Linked DNA regions of Homo sapiens. The protein of the gene in region 1 binds, or shares a complex with, the protein of each later gene. Each region holds a gene or a part of one and is shown on either strand. Other genes may lie near its edges. The genes, in order: NKAP, HDAC3 and CIRSR.

What was found.
Region 2: NKAP (region 1) and HDAC3 share a complex: the UniProt entries of both Homo sapiens proteins name them as parts of the notch corepressor complex.
Region 3: NKAP (region 1) and CIRSR share a complex: the UniProt entries of both Homo sapiens proteins name them as parts of the notch corepressor complex.

What each region holds. Positions count from the first base shown.
Region 1 is NC_000023.11:119,937,023-119,940,771, reverse strand, and holds part of NKAP (NF-kappa-B-activating protein), read left to right. Parts: intron 1-1,961; coding exon 1,962-2,042; intron 2,043-3,749. UniProt on the Homo sapiens protein: Acts as a transcriptional repressor. Plays a role as a transcriptional corepressor of the Notch-mediated signaling required for T-cell development. Also involved in the TNF and IL-1 induced NF-kappa-B activation.
Region 2 is NC_000005.10:141,634,746-141,638,494, reverse strand, and holds the start of HDAC3 (histone deacetylase 3), read left to right. Parts: upstream 1-1,645; 5' UTR 1,646-1,704; coding exon 1,705-1,759; intron 1,760-1,864; coding exon 1,865-1,947; intron 1,948-3,541; coding exon 3,542-3,684; intron 3,685-3,749. Other genes in the region: RELL2 (RELT-like protein 2), read right to left, coding at 86-269. UniProt on the Homo sapiens protein: Histone deacetylase that catalyzes the deacetylation of lysine residues on the N-terminal part of the core histones (H2A, H2B, H3 and H4), and some other non-histone substrates.
Region 3 is NC_000002.12:174,388,971-174,392,719, reverse strand, and holds part of CIRSR (corepressor interacting with RBPJ 1), read left to right. Parts: intron 1-3,749. UniProt on the Homo sapiens protein: May modulate splice site selection during alternative splicing of pre-mRNAs. Regulates transcription and acts as corepressor for RBPJ. Recruits RBPJ to the Sin3-histone deacetylase complex (HDAC). Required for RBPJ-mediated repression of transcription.

The DNA.
Region 1 (3,749 bases):
TATAAATATGTTACCTTTTAAATTGTCTGTTACTTCAGGTGGGAAACCCTCTCAGTCTGACTCTGCATAGTTATAATACCTTTTCCCCTGATTAAGGAGGCAAAAACGATTTATACAAAAACTCATTGCAATTATATTTATTTTGGAAGGATTTTTAAAAACAAATGGAGTCACAAGCAGCTAAAATTTGAGAGAATGAGCCTTAGTCTTTGTTTTGTTTTGTTTTTTAGTTTATGAGGAATAACAAAAATTAAAACAGAAGAAACCATAGGCATAAAACAAAAGAAGAAACAAATTTTAGTGTCCTTCAAAGAATAGATACAAAATGCACTCCTTTTCCAAAAAGGAACTAAAAGGAAAACAGAGAGGGAACAAACCTTGTATCTCATTGAGTATAGTTTTTTTTTTTTTTTTTTTGGTTTTTTATTTTGAGATAAGAGTCTCACTCTATCACCCAGGCTGTCATGTGCAGTGGCGTGACCTTGGCTCACTGCAACCTCCACCTCCAGGGTTCAAGAGATTCTCCAGCCTCAGCCTTCTGAATAGCTGGGACTACAGGCACATGCCACCGTGTCCAGCTAATTTTTGTATTTTTTTTAGTAGAGACAGGGTTTTACCATGTTGGCCAGGCTGATCTTGAACTCCTGACCTCAGGTGATCCACCTGCCTCGGCCTCCCAAAGTGTTGGGATTACAGGCGTGAGCCACCACGCCCAGCCCCAAGTATATTTTTTGTTAAATGAAACTTTTTGACTAGGTGCAGTGGCTCATGCCTGTGATCCCAACGCTTTGGGAGGCTGAGGCAAGAGGATTGCTCGAGGCCAGGAGTTCAAGATCAGCCTGGACAACAAAGCAAGACCTCTTTTTTTTTTTTGAGACGGAGTCTCGCTCTGTCTCCCAGGTTAGAGTGCAGTGGTGCGATCTTGGCTCACTGAAACTTCCACCTCCTGGGTTTAAGCGATTCTCCTGCCTCAGCCTCCCTAGTAGCCAGGATTACAGGCATGCGCCACCACGCCTGGCTAATTTTTGTATTTTTACTAGAGACGGGGTTTCACCATGTTGGCCAGGCTGGTCTTGACCTCCTGATCTCAAGCAATCCGCCCGCCTCAGCCTCCCAAAGTGCTGGGATTACAGGCATGTGCCACCGCACCTGGCGGCAAGACCTCATCTCTACAAAAAAATAAAAAACTTTTATTTCGGGCCCGGTGCAGTGGCTCACGCCTGTAATCCCAGCAACTGAGGTGGATCTCCTGAGGTCAGGAGTTTGAGACCAGCCTGGCCAACACGATGAAACCCCATCTCTACTAAGAATACAAAAATTAGCCAGGCGTGATGGCGCATGCCTGTAATCCCGGCTACTAAGGAGGCTGAGGCAGGAGAATTACTTGAACCCAGGAGGCGGAGGTTGCAGTGAGCCAAGATCGTGCTACTGCACTCCAGCCTGGGCGACAGAGCGAGACTCCATCTAAAAAAATAAATAATAAAATAAAATAAAAACTTTTCTTTCATTTTCAGAACTTCAGTTGTTTTCTACGTCTAATGCATCATTTTTATTTTCTTCATTAATTCCTCGATTTCTGAAAACTGAAGGTTTGACCATATCAAAAGAGACTTCTCTTCACCTTTCATAAATCTGTAAACAAATGAAGTTACTTACAAATGTGAAGCTGTTTCTGTCACATATTACAGATGATGAAATGAGCAGTTAAGAGCTGTGTCATGCATTCAGCAGAATGGATGCACTTGACAGTCTCCCAGGCCATCATTTCTATAGTCTGTACCATTTGATAGTATCATCAGAACATCAGACCTTAAGTGATGAGTTTACATTTAAACCAAGTTTTTATCCATGTTTAAAATATAAAGGGAAAAAAGGCTTAACTAGACTCCTATTGAATTTGATTATATATTTAGGAAACAACTCAGCCATTGAGTTATAATTTACATGTCTTTATCTGCTAGGAGATTAAGTGAGAGAGAGAGAATTGGAGAATTGGGAGCTCCTGAAGTATGGGGACTTTCTCCAAAGAATCCTGAACCAGAGTAAGTGGTTAAAAAATATATTTTTAAAATGTTATAATATGTGTTTAAATCCTGAATCTATTGTGAAAATGTTTAAGTGAAGAACTTTAAATATATCTCACATTTTTCTTTCTTGTGATTTATGTTCTTCTACCCCTTAAGTTTTAAAAACATAGAACATATCTAAAGATTAAAACATGTTGCTAGTAGGTTTTAGCATAATCTAAAATAATTCCTGGAATATAATTTTCCTATTAATAGAAGGGTTCATTGTTAAATAATACACATTATTTTGAATTATTTTTTCTCAACTAAACTCAGTGGCAGATTGCATGCCAGATATTAACATTACAAAGAGATTTTTTTTTTTGAGATGGAGTCTTGCTCTGTCGCCCAGGCTGGAGTGCAATGGTGCGGTCTCAGCTCACTGCAACCTCCGCCTCCTGGGTTCAAGCGATTCTCCTGCCTCAGCCTCCCGAGTAGCTGGGATTACAGGTGCCTGCCACCATGCCCGGCTAATTTTTGTATTTTTAGTAGAGACGGCGGTTTCACCATGTTGGCCAGGCTGGTCTCGAGCTCCTGACCTCGTGATCCGCTTGCCTCAGCCTCCCAAAGTGCTGGGATTACAGGCGTGAGCCACTGCGCCCAGCCTACAAAGAGATTTTTTAAAACGAATATACCAGTATGGTTTTGTTAATATTCCTATATCCAATACTATCTGCAGACTTAATGCTTTTTCTTTTTGCTTATTTCTTTTCTCTTTGATGCTACTCATAAGTTTCTTCTTCCCTCTCTGTTTCTGTGCCAACTTTAGGTTGAGTTGAGACAATGTGCTTGACAGGTAAACCTGTAATTTGTGATTGGATAATAAAGCATTATTATCTGAAACTTGTTCTTACAGATACCTTTAGAAAATGCTTGAAGAGGCCAGGTGCGGTGGCTCACGCCTGTAATCACAGCACTTTGGGAGGCCAAGGCAGGTGGATTCCTTGAGCCCGGGAGTTCAAGACCAGCCTGGGCAAATAACAAGACTATTTAAAAGAAAAAAAAAAGAAAACACTTGAAGAACCTGAATGTATTGAATTAGAGTTGGAAGGAACCCTAAAAATAGTTTTCTTTCTTCTTTTTTTTTTTTTTTTTTTTGAGACAGAGTCTTACTCTGTCACTCAAGCTGGAGTGCAGTGGTGCGATCTTGGCTCACCATAACCTCCGCCTCCCAGGTTCAAGTGATTCTCCTGCCTCAGCCTCCCGAGTAGCTGGGATTACAGGTGCATGCCACCATGCCTGGCTAATTTTTGTATTTTTAGTAGAGATGGGGTTTCACCATGTTGGTCAGGCTGGTCTTGAACTCCTGACCTCATGATCCGCCCACCTCGGCCTCCCAAAGTGCTGGGATTACAGGCGTGAGCCACTGCACCCAGCCAAAATAATTTTCTAGATAATATTTAAATTACTCCAAGTATGATCTTCAGAGGAAAAGATTATATGATGTGGAAACTCCTTTTCTAAACTATTGTAGAATTTGAATAATACTCATTTTCAGAATTCTCTGCAACAGAACAACATCTCTTTAGACTGTAGTTTGTTAGGTTTTTGCTCTGAGGAGACAGAACAGTTGCTGCTTTACCATTTGTCTTTTACGTGCTTAAAATAAAATTATAAAGTCTTTCTTCAGCCTTCTTATACCCAGTTTCTTTAATCTTTCCTATGGTTCCTGTTTCTCTACTT
Region 2 (3,749 bases), on another chromosome or scaffold:
GGCCTGGGTCTGTTGGTCAGGGAGGCAGAGGTGTGGGGAGAAGGGTGAAAGGTGACTGAGCCAGGGTTCCAGGCTCCTCACTCACGGGGCTGAAGCTGGGCATCGTCAGGCTCAGAGCCCCTCGACGTGCGGCAGCGGTAGCCCTTCTTCTTGAGCACGTGGCAGATCATGAAGCCTACCAGGCCCATGAGGAAGAAGACCAGCACAAGCAGGAAGAGCATATATAGCCCATGTTGGGGCGGTTCCAGGTCAGGCTGTGGTTCCGACATGAGGCCCTGGGGGGCGAGCGCGGGCCAGGGCGCCTCCTGGGTTTAGGGGGCTGCAGCTGGGAATGGGGGAGGGGTAGGAATGCCGTCCTCAGGATCTGAAACAAGCACGTCTAAGACGTCCGGCTGAGGTCCGGCCCCACCCCCTACCCAACCAGGGAGCTGTCCGGGCCAGGAGTGCTGTTTCGCCTTTCGGCAAGAGGTCAGCGGCAACGCAAGCTCTCTACCACGACCCTGGTCCCGCTTCCCCGACGCCCCGAGCGTTCCCCTTTCCAGCTTGTTCGCGCTTCTGTCCCTCCCAAGGACACTGCAGCACGAGATGGGACGGCATTCTTAGGCGGCGGGAGCAGAAATCCTGCCTGAGTCAGCGCCCGCACCTCCTCCACGCCGGCCTGAGCCAGGCCTCTGCAGCCCCTTCCTCTCAGTACTCCCGCACCCCTCTCCCTTTTTGGTTTCTCCCACCCTGACCACCTGGCCGACCCGGTACCGGTGATTTGGTTCTGGTTCCGGCTTCTGCTGGGGTTCCGGCTCCAGGGGCGTCCTAGTGCGGCTCAGGGCCCCCGACGCCCTTCCGGCGCTCATCCCTTGATTCCTCCCCTCCCCCTTCGCCGCCTCACCGGCCCCGGGCTGTGGCTGCGGATACCCGCGCCGTGGCAGGCGGGGGGAGGGAAGAACAGAGAAGGATGCGGGCTGGCTGAGAGCGGTGGCAGGCTCCGGGCAACTCCGGCCCTGGGTCAGGGAGATCGCCTCCGCAGCCGCCCTGGCTTCCCAAATGCCTTCACCCGTCGCGGGCCCAGGACCAGGGGGCGGAGCGCAGGTGTGCGGGGCGGAGAGCGTGAGCTCTGCGCGCGCGTGACTGCGCCGGGCCCCCCCGGGGCAATGTGCGGCGCCGAGTCTGGGTCCGGGTAGGGGACAGGCGGTCCGGCGTGGGTGTTGTCCACTGGTCTATCCGGTACGCCTGGCGCAGCTCCTGCCCTCAGATGCCCCGACCGAGCGGAGAGTCAGGAATCTTCTCCGAGGGCTGGGGGAAGCCGGCTTTCCGCACCTTTGAGGGACGGAGTGGCGGGATCTTCGGAGCTTCCTAGAGAAGTGACCACGGCCTGCGCCCGGTTTGGGGCAAGCGGCTGGATGGGATGGCTCGGCTTCCCGAGGATCTGACCCCCGGCCGGAGACAAATGGCCCTCGCATCCTAGGAGCTATGCTGCCAGTTCCCTGCCCAACCCGGGACGCTCAAAGCCCCAGATACCGGGAGAGCTGAGCCGGGCGAGGGGCGGAGCTCCCCTGGGGGCGTGGCCTGGGTGTGGATGGAGGCGGGGCCGCAACGCCCAGTTCCGCAGAGGCCGGCTACGTGCTTGCGCAGCACGCACGGCCGGGGAGGGGCTGGCGGCGGCCGCGGGCGGCGGGCGGCGGAGGTGCGGGGCCTGCTCCCGCCGGCACCATGGCCAAGACCGTGGCCTATTTCTACGACCCCGACGTGGGCAACTTCCACTACGGTGAGGAAACAGGGATATGCATGAGGGGTTGGGACACGGAGGTTTTGAGGCGGGGTTGCAACTCCAGGGGTGAGAGCTGACGAACTCTCTTCTCCCCACCCCCAGGAGCTGGACACCCTATGAAGCCCCATCGCCTGGCATTGACCCATAGCCTGGTCCTGCATTACGGTCTCTATAAGAAGATGATCGTGAGTTCCGCCGCCTCGGCCGGGGGTTGGGGGGTGGGGCGAGCTGTGGCCGTAGGGATAGGTGGGCTGGACTGAGTGCATGAAGTGCGACCCGCCCCTAGAGTATCGGGGAGCTGGATAGAAGTCACCAGGAGTACCTTGAAAGTGCAGGGTGTTGGGGGTGGCGTCCTCTGCTTAATGGAAAGTACTTTCTCACCTCAGGTCGGCCACCCTCTGACTGTAGGCACACTAGCCCTTGGCCTAGGGTTAGCGTGATGTGGGGCTGGTTTGAAGACAGAAGGTGTGTTCCTCCTCTGCATTTTAGAGTGTGGATAGGGCCTTGGCCTCAGGAATTAGGGTTAGGGGAGCGGATATCACTGTATCAGGGTGTGAGGTTTACCCTCAGTTCCCACTCCTCTTTTACCACCTTTCTTTACCTCCAAGGAGCTAGGGCTCCAGGGTGGAACGATGCTGCCGTCTTTGTAAATGTGTATGTGCGTGTGGAACAGAGGCGATATTTTAGATATTCCTTTTTCAGCCTGGAATACCTCTACATGGTTCTGCTTAATCGCTATCCAGTTTTTCATCTACCAGACATACACATGCTGTCTTCCCAGCTTGGAATTTATGGCTGTGATATGGGATAGTAACAGTTAAGCCACGCCAGGCGTGGTGGCCCATGCCTGTAATCCCAGCACTTTGGGAGGTTGAAATGGGGGGGATCGCTTGAGGCCAGGAGTTGGAGACCAGCTTGGGCCACAGTGGGACCCACATCTACAAAAAATAAAAATAAAAAAAGTAGCCATGTGCGGTGGGTGTGCCTGTAGTCCCAACTACTTGGGAGGCCGAGGCGAGAGGATGGCTTGGGCCCAGGAGTTTAAAGTTACAGTGATCTATGATCAGCAGCCTGAGTTGACAGGGAGGACCTTGTCTCAAAAGAAAAAATAAGACAAAACAGCTAAACCCAGGCTTTATGTGTTGCTAGGGAAACTAGTGAACAATATGAATGAATGTTCATTGCTTGTGCCAAGGCACAGACAAATGGACTGGTCATAGAAAAGACTGAGGTGATGTTAGTGCAGGAATCTATATCCCTTGAGATTGTTTGCCTGTATGTACCTGTGTGCATTTTCTGGGAGAAGAAAAGCTCTTTCTTGTGCAGTTTTCAAAGAGGTGTGACACATCCCCCTGACCTTCCAAAGATAATAAATCTTTGATTTTAATTAGAAAGTTGACATATATCCCATATATTTGACTCCAGAAAGAAGAATCCAGAGGAAAGAGGACAGAATCAGAGCTTGGGGGAGGAGATGAGCATGGAGAGAACTGGGAATAGGAGATTCCAAGGAACAGGGCAGGTGGATCAGGGCTCAAAGTTGAGAAGGTACGATAGGCTGAGCTGGAGGTGGAAAGGAAAAGAAGTGGTCTTCAGGGGGCTCATTTGTAATAACTTACCTGGTTAATCGGAGTCTCTCTACTGACTTAAGGATTGTGGGATGAGGGGAATGCTATGTTTGGCTTCATATAGTCTCCAGGACTGGGTTCAGTATGGGTGGTCTGAGCCTGTGGAGTGGGGCTGACCCTGCCTGGGTTCATCTTGTGTCTCCATCCCGAGGTCTTCAAGCCATACCAGGCCTCCCAACATGACATGTGCCGCTTCCACTCCGAGGACTACATTGACTTCCTGCAGAGAGTCAGCCCCACCAATATGCAAGGCTTCACCAAGAGTCTTAATGCCTTCAACGTAGGCGATGACTGGTGAGGGAGGACTGGGAGTTTTGATGTCTAACAGTTTAATGCCAAGCCCTTCAGTGAGGTCTTTT
Region 3 (3,749 bases), on another chromosome or scaffold:
CAGTCCCTCATCCTGTTGCCCAAACCAGAAGCTCAGGATTCATCCCTTTTCCCATCACTCCTTTATCTAGTCAATCACTGAATGCTATTGGTCTTACCTTCCAAATATCTCTTGAATCCATCTTTCCTTTCTGTCACTGCTGCTTGTGTCTTAATTCAGACCCTCATCATCTTTCACCTATATTGTTGCATTTCCTAAGTGGTTCTACTGCCTCCAATCTTGAGTCCTCTCAAATCCATTCACTACACAGCCATCAGAATAGTCATTTTTCATTTTAACAGCTCTGCTGAGATAAATTTACATATCATACAAACACCCATGTAAAATGTACAATTTAGTGGTTTTTAAAATGTATTCATGGAGTTAAGTAATCATTACCACAAACAATTTTAGAACTTTGTCATCACCCCAAAAAGAAACCCCCGCTGGGCATGGTGGCTCACACCTGTAATCTCTGCACTTTGGGTGGCTGAGGTGGGTGGATCACCCGAGGTCAGGAATTCAAGACAGCCTGGCCAACATGGTGAAACCCTGTCTCTACTAAAAGTACAAAAATTAGCTGGGTGTGGTGGCGGGCGCTTGTAATCCCAGCTACTTGGGAGGCTGAGGTGGGAGAATCGCATGAACCCGGGAGGCGGAGATTGCAGTGAGCCAAGATTGCGCCACTGCACTCCAGCCTGGGTGACAGTGAGACACTGACTCAAAAAAAAAGAAACCTGCATACCTGTTAGTCACTCCCATTTTTCCTTAACTCTTCTCCCTCTCTCCAGCCCTAGGCAAGCACTAATCTACTTTCTGTTAGTGGATTTGCCTATTCTGGAAATTCATTTAAATGGAATCATGCAATCTGTGGTCTTTTTTGACTGGCTACTCTCACCATAATGTTTTTGAAGTTTATCCATGGTATGGCATGTATTGGTACTTTTTCCTTTTTATTGCTAAATAATATTCCATTGTATGAATGTAAGTTATTTCGATAGAATTGTCTTTTTTTAAGCACAAATCTGATCTCTTTCAGCCTGTTATTAAAATATTACAGGATTGAGTCCAAGTAATCTCACTCCATCGTTTTTCTCCTTCTCCCCTCCTACTATTCTCCCACCTCAGATTTATTTATTTATTTATTTTTTGAGATGGAGGCTCACTCTGTTGCCCAGGCTAGAGTGCAGTGATGCAGTCTCAGCTCACTGAAGCCTCTACCTCCCAGGCTTAGGTGATTCTCCTGCCTCAGCTTTCCGAGTAGCTGGGATTACAGATACACACCACCACGCCTGGCTAATTTTTGTATTTTTAGTAGAGATGGAGTTTCACCATGTTGGCCAGGCTGGTCTCAGACTCCTGACTTAAGGTGATCTGCCCACCTCAGCCCAACCTAAGATTTTATATGTTAGTAATATTGAACTACTTACGTTCTATTTTATATCTCTGGGCCTTTGCCTGAGTCATTCTCTCTGCCAGTTATATCTTGCCCTGTTTTTTTCCTTGGCCATGCCTTGATCCTTTTCAAAACCCTGTCAAATGTGTGTGAAATTACCTGTGTATTGAGTTCTTGCAGCAAAATTTTTAATAGCAAAATACTGGAAATTTCTTAAGTGCCCATTTATACAGTATGAGATAAATAAATTATAAATTATGGTATAGTCCCACAATATGCAACTTTACCACCCAAAAGAAGAAAGTGTTTGTTTACTGATCCATATTAGTCTTGTATTAGTATTAGTCTGTTCTCATGCTGCTATGAAGAAATACCTGAGACTGGGTAATTTATAAGGAAAGAATTTTAATTGACTTGCAGTTCTGCAGGGCTGGGGAGGCCTCAGGAAACTTAAAATCATGGCAGAAGGGGAAGCAAACACGTCTTTCTTCACATGGTGACAGCAAGGAGAAATGCCGAGCAAAAGAGGAAAAGCTCCTTTTCTGATGGTTTTATCCATCAAATTTCCTGAGAACTCACTCACTATCACGAAAACACCATGGAGGTAACAGCCCCTTTTATTCAGTTACCTCCCATCGGGTTCCTCCCACGATACGCGGGGATTATGGGAACTACAATTCAAGATGAGATTGGGTGGGGACACAGCCAAACCATACCATTCCACCCCAGCCCCTTCCAGATCTCATGTCCTCACATTTCAAAACACAATCCTGCCCTTAACAACCAAAGTCTTAACTCATTCCAGCATTAACTCAAATGTCTAAGTCCAAAGTCTCATGTAAGACAAGGCAAGTCCCTTCCACCTATGAGCCTGTAAAATCAAAAGCAAGTTAATGACTTCCTGGATACAACAGGAGTACAGGCATTGGGTAAATACACCCATCCCCAATGGGACAATTTGGACAAAACAAAGGGGCTACAGGCCCCATGCAAGTCCAAAATCCAATAGGGCAGTCATTAAACCTTAAAGTGCCAAAAGGATCTCCTTTGACTTCATGTCTCATATCCAGGGTGTGCTGATGCAAGAGGTAGGCTCCCAAAGCCTTGGGCAGCTCTGCCCCTGTGGCTTTGCAGGGTATAACCCCTCTCCTGGATGCTTTCATGGGCTGGTGTTGAGTGTCTGTGGCTTTTCCAGGCACATGGTACAAGTTGGTGGATCTACTATACTGGGGTCTGGAGGACAGAGGCCCTCTTCTCGCAGCTCCACTAGGCAGTACCCCAGTAGGGACTCTGTGTGGGGGCTCCGACCCCACATTTCCCTTCCGCACTGCCCTAGTAGAGGTTCTCCAAGAGGGTTCCACCCCTGCAGCAAACATCTGCCTGAACATCCAGGTGTTTCCATACATCTTCTGAAATCTAGGCAGAGGTTCCCAAACCTCAGTTCTTGCCTTCTGCGCACGTGTAGGCCCAACATCACATGGAAGCTGCCAAGGTTTGGGGCTTGCATTCTCTGAAGCAGTGGCCATAGCTGGAGTGGCTGGAATGCAGGGCACGAAGACCAAAGGTTGTACCCAGCAGTTGAGAGGCTGGACCCGGCCCAGGAAACCACTTTTTTCCTTCTCCTAGGCCTCCAGGCCTATGATGGGAGGGGCTGCTGTGAAGGTCTCTGACATACCCTGGAGACATTTTCCCTTGTCTTGGTGATTAACATTCGACTTCTCATTATTTATGCAAATTTCTGCAGCCGGCTTGAATTTCTCCCCAGAAAATAGGGTTTTCTTCTCTATTCCATTGTCAGGCTGCAGAATTTCCAGAATTTTATGCTGTGCTTCCTCTTGAATGCTTTACTGCTTAGAAATTTCTTCTACCGGATACCTTAAGTCATCTCTCTCAAGTTCAAAGTTCCACAGATCTCTGGGGCAGAGGCAAAATGCCACCAGTTTCTTTGCCTAGCAAGAGAGACTTTTACTCCACTTCCCAAAAGGTTTCCCATCTCCATCTGAGACCACCTCATCCTGGACTTCATTGTCCATATTACTATCAGCATTTTGGTTAAAGCCATTCAACAAGTCTCTAGGAAGTTCCATACTTTCCCACATCTTCCTGTTTTCTGAGCACTCCAATTCTCTAGGAAGTTCCAGAGTTTCCCACATTTTCCTGTTCCAACCTCCACCTGTTACCCAGTTCTAAAGTCACTTCCACATTTTCGGGTATCCTTTTAGCAGCCCTCCATTCTACCTATACCAATTTACTATATTAGTCTATTCTCACGCTGCTATGAAGAAATGACCAAGACTGAGTAATTTATAAAGGCAAGAGGTTTAATTGACAGGAAACTTACAATCATGGCAGAAGGGGAAGCAAACATGTCCTT